Regions from separate parts of the Homo sapiens genome. Here region 2 is linked to region 1. The links come from fine-mapping of genetic effects on gene expression. A gene starts in region 1. The other region holds a variant in brackets. All regions are shown on one strand. Distances are between the middles of the regions. Region 1 holds the start of PIK3R5 (phosphoinositide-3-kinase regulatory subunit 5). Region 2 overlaps PIK3R5 (phosphoinositide-3-kinase regulatory subunit 5).

What was found. PIP is the estimated chance that this variant, and not a neighbour inherited with it, causes the effect.
Region 2: its variant is fine-mapped to the expression of PIK3R5 in whole blood (INTERVAL, PIP 0.91).

Annotation. Positions count from the first base shown.
Region 1 is chr17:8,964,107-8,967,006 of GRCh38, forward strand. It overlaps PIK3R5 (phosphoinositide-3-kinase regulatory subunit 5), which reads right to left and starts at 1,601. Exons shown (of 19, transcript NM_001142633.3): 1 at 1,490-1,601. It overlaps PIK3R5-DT (PIK3R5 divergent transcript), which reads left to right and starts at 1,741. Exons shown (of 3, transcript NR_184080.1): 1 at 1,741-1,897; 2 at 2,661-2,900. RefSeq lists silencers at 1,525-1,844, 1,915-2,014.
Region 2 is chr17:8,879,899-8,882,798 of GRCh38, forward strand. It overlaps PIK3R5 (phosphoinositide-3-kinase regulatory subunit 5), which reads right to left. Exons shown (of 19, transcript NM_001142633.3): 16 at 1,890-1,983; 17 at 1,732-1,814; 18 at 1,007-1,119; 19 at 1-888. The coding sequence ends at 741. The region is part of intron 1 of LOC124903919 (a long non-coding RNA gene); the gene reads left to right. Among named protein-coding and RNA genes, the nearest start is that of PIK3R6, 14 kb to the left of the region's middle. The variant C/CAGTA (reference allele first, on the strand shown) is at 1,685.

The DNA of each region.
Region 1 (2,900 bases):
TGGGCCAGGCACAGTGGCTCATGTCTATAATCCCAGCACTTTGGAAGGCCAAGGTAGACGGATCGCTTGAGCTCAAGGAATTTGGGACCAACCTGGGCAACATGGCAAAACCCTGCCTCTACAAAAAATACAAAAATTAGCTGGGCGCCGTGGTGCTGACCTGTAATCCCAGCTACTTGGGAGGCGGAGGCGGAGGATTGCTTGAGCCTGGGAATTTAAGGCTGCAGTGAGCCATGATCACGCCACTGCACTCCAGCCTGAGTGACAGAGCAAGACCCTGTCTCAATAATAATAATAATAATAATTCCACACAGCTCTATGGGTCAGTATGACAGCCCATTTTATGAATCAGGAGACTGAGGCTGGGTTGGGGGACAGTGTGATGCTGCAGGTCACACAGCTGGATCCGGTTGGAACTTGGGTCTCTTTTCCACATCATGCATGGTTCCCAAGCAACGGCTTCAGCATCATCACTTAAGGAGCTCATTCAAAGTTTTGAAAACTACAGATTCCAGATCCCATCCCTGGAAAGCCACGTTGTAGGGTTGGCTCCAAGAGAGCCCTACCTGCAGTCAGCTCTGGGAGCCAGTGCCTTACAGGTGGTCCTGAGGGCAGGAAGGAAAGTGTGGGGTGGATGAGAAGACACAGAAGGAAAACGAGGGTGTCAGTCCAGAGAGGACCTTGGAGGCAGGCTTGGCCTACTTTTAGCCCTTATTCTGCCTAAACCCACCCCTCCTCTCTACTCCGAGTCTTGTTAACTCGCTTTATACCACATCCTGCTGCTTTAACCTCGCCTTCCTTTTCCTTCTGAACAATCTCCTTCCTCCTACTGACCTGAACTTTTTGTGTATTTACCCCAGGCCGGGATGGGCCAGCACGCGCACATGCGCATGCCCACACACACACACACACACACACACACACGAGTCACGCGGGGATGTCCAGTGTGTAAACACAGATCCTCTGAGAGCAGAAAGCGTGCAGTTCTCTAGGACAGCAGCCGCGTCTGGGCCCAAGGCTGGCTAACTAGCAGGCTGAGTGAGGCTCGACGGAGGGCGCCTTACGCGGGCACTTCCATGACTCCCAGGTTCTGACGGCACAAGAGCCCTGATGCCCACGCTCACGGACAGTTCCCCGCTGGAGCGGGCAGGGGACCTGACCCTACGACACAGGGCGTCCTGTGTCAGAGGCAGGAGGCTGAGGACACAGCTGCGCAGAGCCGCCCAGCAGAGGTTACCCGGATAACGATAAGTGGTCCCCGCGACGCCCCTTAAGTCTCTGGGGTTATCTGGAGCGCAGGTTTGCAGACCCGCTGCCCCCGCGGTGGGCCAGGTCCACGGGGCCGGAAGATAGCAGGATCTGTCCAGCCCTCGGGCTGCGGCGGCTGCTCGCGGAGCCCACTCTCCCCGACGGTCCCCAGCTTGCTCCAGCTCTGCCTGGAGCTCCCATGCGTGCCCTCCGCATCCGCCCTGGCCGCCCAGTCACACACCTGCAGTCCCCGCCGGGCGCCGAGCCCCTCTCCAGCGGCGACTCCCTGCGATTCGGGTGACCGTCGGGACCACCGCGCCCCAGCTGGAGCCGCGCGGCGAGCCGCAGCATCTGCCCAGCCTGGGCTCCTCCGGCGGGCGGGGCGGAGCCTGTCAGGGGGCGGGGCCTAATGGGGCGGGGCTGACCGCGGAGCCGGCCTCTCCAGCCACCTGGCGGCCCGGCAGCGTCAGCCAGGTGCGCGCCCGGCCCCACATCCTCTGGGTCACGCCCCCGAGGCCGCAAGGCGTCTGAGAAGCAGCCCCGGCTCTGACCCGCCAGCCCTCGGAAGAAGCAGACCCTGGCCGGTCCATGGCAGTGGCCCGAGGGGCACCAGCGCGGAGCACCAGCGACCCCCAAGGAGTAAGGGGAGGTTAGGCCCCCGCGTCGGAAGCGCGGCTTTGGCCCCGCAGGAGGGCTGGGCGGAGCAGGGGGGCAGGTCTGGGGTAGGGGCTTAGGGGAAAGACGAGAAAGAGGAAGCTCCGACGAGCTGCTTCCTTCTCTCACTGCGACCCACTTCCTCTTCCTACTTCTATTTTCTTTCTTTTTTTTTTTTTTTTTTTTGAGATGGAGTCTCGCTCTGTCGCCAGGCTGGAGTGCAGTGGCACGATCTTGACTCCCCACAACCTCCGCCTCCCGGGTTCAAGCGATTCTCCTGCCTCAGCCTCCCGGGTAGCTGGGACTACAGGCGCGCGCCACCACGCCCAATTTTTTGTATTTTTACTAGAGACGGGGTTTCACCATGTTGGCCAGGATGGTCTCGATCTCTTGACCTCGTGATCCGCCCGCCTCGGCTTCCCAAAGTGCTGGGATTACAGGCGTGAGCCACTGCGCCCGGCCCCTACTTCTATTTTCTTTGGGTGCCCTTAACCCTTAAAATGCCTGCACTACTGCTGTGCAGACGGGCACCTTGACCCGCATCCTTCTGCAGGAACCTTCATAGAAATACCAGCCAGTCCCGGCGTTCAGCACTGCTGTTCCAGCCTCTGGCTGGACTTCCCGCCCTCCCTGGCCGGCACCAAGGCTACTGTCACCTGAGTGGTTTCCCCAGCCCCTGGGGAAGGGAGTGAGGGTGTGCGGGAGTTCCTGCCTCCAGGGTCAAGGCCCTCTTCTTGCCTCCCCCTTTTCTCCCCCAGACGACGTTGCAGATGATGCTCTACCAAGAGTTGGAAGGACTCCCCAGGGAATCCCACAAGACACTGCGCTTCCTATGCCTCCTTTCCCTCGTTTAAAAAATGGGGATAAGAAGGTTGGCTACTGCTCCGACAGCCCTCACAATGGAAGAGTAGCACTTCATTTGTGGGTTAACAAAGGGCAACGCTGAAATCTCCACTTCCACTATTGAATGGAACTGTGTCATAATATCTGTTAGAGGC
Region 2 (2,900 bases), 84 kb before region 1:
CTTCCTCTAGTGATTTAGCTAGAACTGAGCTGCTACTAAATTTAACCCTATCCTGTCTTCTAAGAATCTCAGATTCCAAAAGGAGATCAAGAGAGAATCTGTGCCGGGTTCTGAGAGTAGACAGGTCCAGCGTTAGTGCTGTTTTTCTGGAGACTCAGGAAACTTGAGAGAAATTATTGAGGTGTGTGCGTGTGTGTGTGCGCATGTGCGTACATGCATGCCATGTGTGTGTGGTGTTTGCAGGGAGAGGTGGTCTTGAAGTAGAGAAATGTTTCATCCACATTTCAATCACCTGAGCCCCACAGAGGAGGGGACTGAACTCCAGACATACAGGGTCCTCAAGTCTTTGGCAAAGTAAGGGGTAGGCTCAGCCAAGGTTGAGAGAAAAGGCCCAAGCCATCCCCCTGAGCACCAGAGCCTCAGATCTTCCTTCTAGAAAGGATCCTAGACCATGCTAATGGTCAGGGACTTCAGAGGTCAATTTACCCATCCTTCTCCTTCTACTGCCAGGAATCTAAGAGGCTATGGGGTCTGGCCCTTCTCTCTCTGATAGCTGTTGCTTTCCCAGAACCCTGAGGCCCCAGAAACCCTCTACTCCCAGCCCCTGCTCATTGCAGGACCCACAGTGGGACTATGGCTCTGCACAGGGCCATTCAGTTCTCCACAGAGAGGGACTGTCCTGGAGGGGTGGCCGAGGAGGTTGCCCCAGGGCTTCTGTCCAGTCTGGCGCTGGGCCCACACTAGGGCAGAGCTCCACTGAAAGTCATGATGGGCAGGCAGAGAAGGGAGCAGAGATCAGGTGCGGCCTGGGCCGGCAGGTCAGGAGGCGTCTGGGGTGGTGAGGAGAGGTCGCTCTTCTCTGGCTTGTAGCACGGTGAGACCTCACATCTGTGCAGCAGGGCAGGGGCCAGGGATCAGAGCAGGCCCCCATCCTTCCAGCTCCTTCCAGGCCTCTGGGTTGGTGGGAGCAGAAACTGCTCCCCTCCCTAGGACCCCCCTTTCCTACCTGACTACACTCTGCAGGATCTTTCTCTCATCCTGGTCCAGGCACACAGCAAAGGGGCAGCTGTTGGAGCCGATGATCTGCACCTTGTCCACTTTGATCTGCGATGTGCTAATCTGGAAGGAAGGCCCAGGTCAGCCCCAAATCCCTGGCCATCCAACACTGCCAGCCCCTGGCAGTTCCTTTTCTCAGAACTGCCCATCCACTTCTAGGGGTGTGGGAGGGCAGGGGTTTGTCTGACTGCGCTCCAGGGTTAATGGCCAGGTCACAGGAGGGAGCCTGAGGCCTCCATCAGCCCCTGCCTCCTCTCCAGCATCTGGAAGAAGCAAGTGCCCCCTGAGGAGACATTGCCCTGCCTGCTGCCCTCACCGGAGCAGCCCCAGGTCCCCTGATCCAGAGCCTGCTTTCTTTGGTCTCAGAGTCTTAGGACTCTCCTGGCACCCACCCCACAACTTTTCCACATACACGCGTCCTCTCACAGGGCACCCCTACCTCCCCGACACCCCGCAACACTCCACACCTGTGTGCATCCCCAAATCATACCCCTCACCCTGCCTCTCCTCCCCCACCTCTCCTCTCTCTCTCACACACACACAAGTATGTACACACGGGTGTGTATGTGCACACATGCACACACATACATGTGCACACACACGTACACACATACGCACATGCACGCTC[C/CAGTA]AGTAAGTCTCTTGAGGGTATGGCTGGAAGGAGAGGGAAGCCCGTACCTGGTTAAAGCCCTTCTTGGATTTGGAGTTCTGCCTTTTCACCACTTCTGTCAGGTTTAGCGTCAGGGCCTCCATGCTGGAATCTGAGGGGCAAGGACACTCAGGCCAGGCTCAGAGCACCTCCCTACTGCACACCCCACACTGACCACCCCACTCACCCAGCTCCTCCTGCTTCCGGCAGGCCTTGTTGAGGTTCACGGAGGTACAGACCTTCTCCAGGTTGCTCCAGCGACTTCGTCCACTGATGGCCCCCTGGAAATGCAGTGTAGCCAGACCCTCTGAGTCCAGAGGCCCCGGTGCCTGCTGCCTTCTCTTTGAAGGCCCATCAGTGACAGGGGGTTGCCTCTAGTTAGCATATCCCCAGAAAGCCCTCTCTTATTCACCAGGGCCCCTGTACCACCCTGGATAGACCTGGATGACTCCAGGGAAGAGCTCACGTCACTGGCTTGGTCTAGGGGTCAGCAGCCTCTGTGACCAGGTTGAAAGGTACAAGAGCTGAGAGCACCTGCAGGGGTGGTCCTGAAGCTCTCCTGCCGGGCCCAGAGTGAAGAAGGGTTGGGCCCACAGACATGCTGTTTCTGGCAGAGCCAGACCTGAACCCCCTCTTCAAGTCTTTGTGTGAATGTCTCTGTCATCAGGGACCTCCATGTTGTTAAACCGAAGAACACTTCTTGGTCCTCAGCTTACTTGACCTTACAGTTCACTGCTCTCCCCTCCTTGAAAACCTCTCCTGGGCTTTCGTGATGGCACCTTCCTGGTTTTTCTAGCGCCTCTCTGGCTGGTGCCTCTCTGCTTTGCTGGATCGCTGCCCTCTGCCCGCCATTACATCATGAAGGGCTCAAGGTTCTCCCCTTGGTCCTCTGCTCTTTGTATTCCCTGCTTCCCCCCTTCAGGAGTCTCCTCCGTGACCTTTTTCCATTAGCAGCTGTCCACCCATCTTCATATTCACCACAAAGTCAGGCCCGTTCAGCCAGCCGTCTATTCTCACTGTCTCCTTATACCTCTCAAGGCCTCTCAACCTCAATAATATGTCCCGACCCAAACTCAAGCTCTTCCCCAACTGGACCCCGGCCTCTTCCTGTGGTCCCCCCAGAGAAGATGGTGCTGCCAGTCACAGAGGAGTGACTCCAGGAGTCTGGCCTCTCCTTTCCTAACCCATCCATGGGCCC